2 linked regions of the Homo sapiens genome follow. The protein of the gene in region 1 purifies or fractionates together with the protein of each later gene. This does not show direct contact. Each region holds a gene or a part of one and is shown in the gene's direction. Other genes may lie near its edges.

What was found.
Region 2: the proteins of PACS1 (region 1) and PTPRG purify together in Homo sapiens (affinity purification with mass spectrometry; one large-scale study listed by BioGRID and IntAct). This does not show direct contact.

Annotation. Positions count from the first base shown.
Region 1 is NC_000011.10:66,230,535-66,234,559, forward strand, and holds part of PACS1 (phosphofurin acidic cluster sorting protein 1), read left to right. Parts: intron 1-13; coding exon 14-129; intron 130-270; coding exon 271-406; intron 407-1,637; coding exon 1,638-1,742; intron 1,743-2,425; coding exon 2,426-2,532; intron 2,533-3,250; coding exon 3,251-3,405; intron 3,406-3,597; coding exon 3,598-3,708; intron 3,709-4,025. UniProt on the Homo sapiens protein: Coat protein that is involved in the localization of trans-Golgi network (TGN) membrane proteins that contain acidic cluster sorting motifs.
Region 2 is NC_000003.12:62,271,571-62,275,070, forward strand, and holds part of PTPRG (receptor-type tyrosine-protein phosphatase gamma isoform 1 precursor), read left to right. Parts: intron 1-1,375; coding exon 1,376-1,511; intron 1,512-2,127; coding exon 2,128-2,274; intron 2,275-3,500.

The DNA of each region.
Region 1 (4,025 bases):
TCCTCCATGGTAGGAAATCACTGACCAGGACATGTTTGGAGATGCCAGCACGAGTCTGGTTGTGCCGGAGAAAGTCAAAACTCCCATGAAGTCCAGTAAAACGGATCTCCAGGGCTCTGCCTCCCCCAGGTACTGCAGATGGAAAGGAAGCAGGGGGTACAGCCTGCAGCTGTGCTTAGCATGGGCTTCAGGGCTGAGGGAAAGCGGGGCTGGCAGCAGCTTTGGGGTTGGAGGGGCTATTTCACCAGCCTTTTTCCACCTCCCTGGCAGCAAAGTGGAGGGGGTGCACACACCCCGGCAGAAGAGGAGCACGCCCCTGAAGGAGCGGCAGCTCTCCAAGCCCCTAAGTGAGAGGACCAACAGTTCCGACAGCGAGCGCTCCCCAGATCTGGGCCACAGCACGCAGGTACTTCTGGGTGCCCCCAAAACACCAGGACCCTCTGAGATTCCCTGAACTTCAGGCTCTGTTTTGTTGGCTTCCTTGGACAGTTAGTTGGAGAGAAGAGGAATACTTGGAAATGCTCTGAACAAAAACTCTTGAAGAAAGACTAAATTAGAGAGGTCTCCTATATTCCTTGCTTACTGCCAGTGTGGAACTGGCTTCCACGCTGACCTCTAGGGCGCAGGCAGGGGAGCCAAAAACGCTGTGTGGTCGTGGCCTGCCACGGCTGCGAGTGTCGATTCCACACCACCGGTGTCTCTGCCTCCATCAGACGTCAGTCTGGAGATTGTGCCGTGAATCCACTGTTGCAGAGGACAGCAGCCTCTGGATCTCATGGGACATCCTGACCCGAGCTCCCAACCTGAGTATTGCTGTGGGCGGTCATCGTGCTTTCAAGCCGGGAAGCCAACAATATTAAACTGTTTCAATGGAAGGACCCGAGAGTGGGCTGGAGAAGAAGTCAGAAGAACTGGGCCTCAGGAATCGTGTTCTCCTTTTGAAGGCCTGTGGTGTCAGAGATCTGGGACAGGGATTTTCCCGGCACACCTTACACAGTTCCAGTTCTGCTAGGGTTAAACAGCCAGCCTGTTCATTCCCCTGATAACTTACCAAGTGCATTGTCAGTGTGGCCTCCTGAGCTCCATGCTATTACATGGCTGAAAATGAACTTGAGACTAGAATAGCCCAGTGCCTGGGGTGAGGTATTGTCCTTCTTGTTAATCACTGTTCCTGAAATACCTTTTGTTCCCTCAGACAGCAGGTACCCACACAGCACTCATTGCCACTCTCATTATTTCTCTCCCCACTGCCCTCGTTTCTGTTTCTCTGAGCACCTGCTGGCCGCCCTCTGCCTCTCCCTTCCTGGTTCTTACGCTGCTGCCCCTCCTGCCACCCACACCGTTTCCCATCCGCGAGGCTTGCTGCACCTCCATCCTCTCCACCTGCCCTGGCAGGACAACCGCTGTGGCTTTGTTCCTCATCTCCATGTGTCCTCTAAGGACTCGCTTTGCTGCTTCTTTCTCCTCCTTTCCATCGTGGTCTGGCCAGTGGGAGACTGAGTCTCCCTCCCAAAGTCCTGATATCTGTTCTCTCTAACACCCCTGCTCCAGAGACTCCCCATGCACCAGTCCAGCAGCCCTGTCCTCAGGCTCCCCAGGGACTCCCTAACAAGAGACACTTTCTTTTGTTCCTGCAGATTCCAAGAAAGGTGGTGTATGACCAGCTCAATCAGATCCTGGTGTCAGATGCAGCCCTCCCAGAAAATGTCATTCTGGTGAACACCACTGACTGGCAGGGCCAGGTAAGTGCTGAAACTGCGAGGCCATGTGGGGTCCTGGAGGGCAGGCAATGCCCGGTTGCATTGTCAGTGTGGCCTCCATACTATTGCGTGGGGAGGTGGGGAACTCACCCCTCCATCAGCCCCCACCTGCTCTGAACTGAGCCCAGAACTCTGAGTTCTAGTCCAACTTCTGTCATTATCCAACTTGTGGGATCTTAAATCACTAAGTTTGCTCTACCTCAGCTTCCTCATACGTTAAAAAACAAACAAACAAAAAGCAACAGTAATTCCTCCAGGGCGCCACATGCGTCAGGCAGCATAGTGGAACGGAGGCCTGTAGAGAAGCACCCGGCTGTAACCTCCAGGGCTGCCCCATGAAGGCAGGTCAGCAAGGCAGAGCATCCCTGCCTGCTCCCTCACCGCTGTCCACCTGGCTTAGACACTGGTGCCGGGGACACCTGGAGTGTCCTAGCATGTGAAACCCCCTAAGGCTTCCCATCTCTCACACTCTGCGTGTCTCGTGGGTCGGCCCCACCCCCTCCTTACTGGCAGTCCGGAGACCTGGCTGCCTTTGCCCAGCTTCGGTCTGAACTGCAGAGGACAGGGGCCCTGCAGCTCGGTCTGGGTCTCACTTGCCTCTTGGCCCTTGTGAAGGAGTGATGTGTTCTCACCTGTGTCCCTGCTCTCCTCCCTCCCTATCCCAGTATGTGGCTGAGCTGCTCCAGGACCAGCGGAAGCCTGTGGTGTGCACCTGCTCCACCGTGGAGGTCCAGGCCGTGCTGTCCGCCCTGCTCACCCGGATCCAGCGCTAGTAAGGGCTCTGGCCTCCCTTCTCCTGCCCTTAGAGATTCCCTCTGACCTCATCTTCCAACCCTGACTTCTAAGCAATGATAGACCCTCCTGGCCTCATCAGACCAAGAATTTGCAGAGGGGCGTATGTTTAGGGGGGTGGCGGCAGCAGGCTGTAGGGCTTGAGGCCCCGGCAGACCCCAGAGGATCGGGGGTGGAAATATCAATTCCTGTGCTCCCTGCCTCCCTGCCTGGACCCCCGCCATGCCTTGACTTGCTTTATCCTCTTAAACCCATGATGAAGGAGAGGACACACTGGTTTTAAAAAGATCTTTTATTCCTTCCATCTGCAACATGCTGCTAGACACTCAGGAGTCAGTGCTTCCCCTACCCTCAGGGCCTTCTTAAAAGGCCCAAGTCCCTTGCCCTTGTGAAAGAGAACTATGGATTCCAGGCCTGGGGGCACACACCCTGCGGGCATCCCAGGCACACTGCCGAGTCCTACGTTAGCCTCAGCTGTTCCGTCTGCTTCATGGGCAATGCCCTCTGACCCTGGATTTTTCTCTTGGTTGTGAAAGCACTGTGGCTTATTCCCTGTATGATCCTCTCTGTTTTATTTTGTGGATTGGTTTGCTTTTCCCCTGTGGGTTGTTGAGATCACAGAAAGTCAGCTCTGGGCCTCCCCCGGGCAGGATCCTGGCACCCCTGAGCACTGCTATGACGCTCCCCTTCCTCCCCAGCTGCAACTGCAACTCTTCCATGCCGAGGCCAGTGAAGGTGGCTGCTGTGGGAGGCCAGAGCTACCTGAGCTCCATCCTCAGGTTCTTTGTCAAGTCCCTGGCCAACAAGACCTCCGACTGGCTTGGCTACATGCGCTTCCTCATCATCCCCCTCGGTAAAGACGGGAGGCACCAGGAGGGCGTCGGGCATGAGGGTTCCATAGACAGATGCCTCATCTGGAACAGGACGGTGGGGTTGGGGCCTAGGAAGGGACAGTCAAGGAGACCAAGGCCGTGGCCAGGGACAGCTGCTCCCACACTGTCTCATCTCCTGACGAATTCACCACCTCTGGTTTTCCATCTACCAGGTTCTCACCCTGTGGCCAAATACTTGGGGTCAGTCGACAGTAAATACAGTAGTTCCTTCCTGGATTCTGGTTGGAGAGATCTGTTCAGTCGCTCGGAGCCACCAGTGTCAGGTAATGGCCCCGTGTAAGGAGCTTACTCCCACCCCCGGGGTCCACAGGTGCCAGCCTGGCTGCAGAAGGAGGCTGAGGTCATGCTGCTTTCCTCCCTGCAGCTCTCACCTTCCCGGTCACTCTGTCCATTCATTTTTCCATAAGTGTTTATTAAGCGGAGGCTCACTGTGCACAGCCCCTCCACTCTGCCAGTTTTCATCCTCTGCTATTTGCTCTGCTCCTGTTCATCTGGAAGGAACAAGGGCCATGCTGGCATAGTGGCCAGGGCGTCTCTAGTTGTAGAGATGAAATACAAGGAGCAGAGAATAGCAGTCAAG
Region 2 (3,500 bases), on another chromosome or scaffold:
CAACATGTGAAATAGATGGGGCAGGGGACTTAGGCCTCAGTGACCTTGGACCACAATGATTGCTACTGCTTTCACTTAGAAGCTGAATCTTCCACTGGAAACTGGGATGGATAAGACCTATGATAGTCTTAAAGAGGCTCTATTCCTGTAACATTAAGAAATCATCTGCTGCTTCTGTGATTTTTAAAAAACTAGATCAATCCCTAGTTTTTATAAAATCTTCTTATTAATAATATCAGCCAGGCATGGAGGCCAACTCCTGTAATCCCAGCACTTTGGGAGGCTGAGGTGGGTGGATCACTTGAGCCCAGGAGTTTGAGACCAGCCTGGGCAACAAAGTGACACCCCATTTCTACAAAAATTAAAAATAAAAAAATTAGCCAGCATGGTGGCACATGCCTGTGGTCCCAGCTACATGGGAGGCTGAGACAGAAGGATCCCTTGAACCCAGTAGGTCAAGGCTGCAGTGGGCTGTGTTCACATAACTGCACTCCAGCCTGGGTGATGATAGAGCAAGATCATGACTCAAAAAAAAAAAGAAAAAATTACAAAATCCCCATTGTTTATAGGAAAATTGTAGCCTGATCCTAATAAATAAAAATATGACGTTAAACACAAGAACTTTCCACACTAGAATAGAGATTGTGTTTTTGTAAATGGCTTTTCTGAAAGGTTCTTCTAAATAACAATATTTATAGTATATATGAAAATATTTCATTTTTAAATTTTTAGTTTAAATGTTCCATATAAAATACCTTTTCAAAAGCACTGGGAAATCCTTGTATAAAGCTTGTTTTTTGTCAGCCACAGTAAATGACTTTAGTTGGTTGTTTAAAAATGCTTTTATTCTGTTTCATTTGAAAATGCATTCTTGCCTCTTTTTTGTTTGTTTTAAACTTTGGTACTCAAATACATGTCGCTTGTTCTGTGATTTATGTTGCAATGCTAAGTGAATAACGTACGTCATCTAAGGTTATCTAAGTGGGGTTTAGGCTGGGAGTGGTGGCTCACACATGTAATTCCAGCAGTTTGGGAGGCCAAAGTGGGCAGATCACCTGAGGTCAGGAGTTCGATACCAGTCTGGCCAACACGGTGAAACCTCTACTAAAGATAAAAAATTAGTCGGGTGTAGTGGTACACATCTGTAATCCCAGCTACTCGGTAGGCTGAGGCTCGAGAATTGCTTGAACTGGGAGGCGGAGGTTGCAGTGAACCGAGATTGCGCCACTGCACTCCAGCCTGGGCAACAGAGTGAAACTCCATCTCATCTCAGAAAAATAATAAAATAAATGGGGTTTAGATTGGAATTTTTCGAATCCAAAGTTAACAGTATGATAAAACAAAAGTGCCAGTTGAGTGTCTTCATTTCTTACAGTGCTGGTGTGGGCAGAACAGGCACCTATATTGTAATAGACAGCATGCTGCAACAGATAAAAGACAAAAGCACAGTTAACGTCCTGGGATTCCTGAAGCATATCAGGACACAGCGTAACTACCTCGTCCAGACTGAGGTAAGGAGTAGCTGCCAGCGTCCTCACGACATTCTGGCAAATGCTGTAACTGAAATTTGTTAAATGATAATGAAGAGACAGATTCATTCTTTTAGGGCTTGCAGTAATTTACAGGTTTGTATTAGAAGATATTCTGACAATGATCCTATTCTACGGATCACAGTTTTCCATTTCTGTATGGATCTTAACATTTGGATTCCTAAATAACTACACAAGTACTTACGAAAGAGATACAGTTGTTTCAAGAGCTGTGTTAGATGGTAGGGGGAGTTAAACATGTTGTCTGGCCTGAGAAATACATAGGAGAGGATGGTTCTAAAACCCTTCATTGAACACGATTTTTTGTTTGCTTATTGAGTTGAAGCAATAAGCACAGTATAGAATACCGTGATCCAGGCACAGTATAGAATACAGAGCTAAACTTAACACAGTCTCTACCGTAAAATAAGTTAAGACTGATAAAGTGAGTATTGGAGCAAATCACCTAGCTGTAAGTGCTTGAAGGAAATCACTGGGAGGTCCCTGTTAGCAGCAGAATTAAACTAAGGTACACTTCATGAATGAGTGGCTAACCCTTAACACTCCCTCAGTGACTACCATGTATTGTACCTCTTAGGAGCAGTACATTTTCATCCATGATGCCTTGTTGGAAGCCATTCTTGGAAAGGAGACTGAAGTATCTTCAAATCAGCTGCACAGCTATGTTAACAGCATCCTTATACCAGGAGTAGGAGGAAAGACACGACTGGAAAAGCAATTCAAGGTAGTGCTTTGAAAAAGTTTCTTTGGCATAAAGCAAGAAAATGTTTTAAATGCCTTGAGTTTGGGGGTTATGTCTTCTTTGCATTAATGTATACACCGAAATGGATTACTATTTGTACTCCTTGTACTCCTTAAATGTGATGAAAAAGAAAATACGGTTTTGACCTATGTATGAATTGTTGGTATTCAAGTAGATATACAGTGTTGTATTTTCTTCTGAGCAATTTATGACTTTATCTGAATATAAACATCAGCCCCTGGCCATAATGACATAGTACTTTAAAGTAACTCGTTTAGTCCAAAAAATGTCCTATTTTTTCTGAACTAATCTATCTTACCTTAATTATTAAGAATGATGACTTGTAGACATATTGTCCTAAAAATATGCCTATTTCAAAAACTATTTCAGAAGATAATTTAGGAATTTAAAAAGAATTACTAAACAATACTAGAGAAAAGTTAACTTTTCCTAAATGGTTGTTCTTTTTCTTTGATAGGGACATGAAGAAGCTTAAAAGCGGTTAAGGTTTATATGGAATTGACTGAAGTGAAGGTGAAAAAGAGAGATTATAAGGACTATTAAAATAATTAGGGCTCAGTCATCTGATAATAAATCAAAATTGCTTCTAACTTTCAAACATCGCCTGTCTCTCCAGTTACCAAGTGCTTTCCTATTTATCTTTGTCTTTTAAATTCTATTTTGCACATTGTTCTGTATGTAAATAGTTTCTCCCTTTGTATCAAGATTCAAAGAATGAGATGAATCTACAGTTTTAGTTTTCATGGTAAAACTTTCCATAGACTGAAACTTTCATTTGAATCTCAGCTGAAGAAATGAGACTGCCAAGCAAATTATACCAAGTGATATGAAATGAAAAATAGTTTAATTTCACTGAGTTCAGTCATAAAATTAAAAATTTTTAGCTCCCCATTAACATTCTACTATAAAACCATGAGATAATTAATAATGAGGACACAGTGTATCATTTTAAATGTTTAACATGAGTTCTTACAAAATATTAAGTACCAACATTTCTTAAATTCTGCCTTTTTCGTTTCTTCAATTTTTTTTTATACATACTTTAAAACTTCATTTAAGAAATGCGACCAGGTAGTTGGTTCTTTTACAGGCACTAACCATTTTAGAGCTCAAGATGAAGAAAAAAACAAGAATCAAACTTGAAAATGAAAATTATATCCAGGGACCATGAGTTTTACTAAAGCATC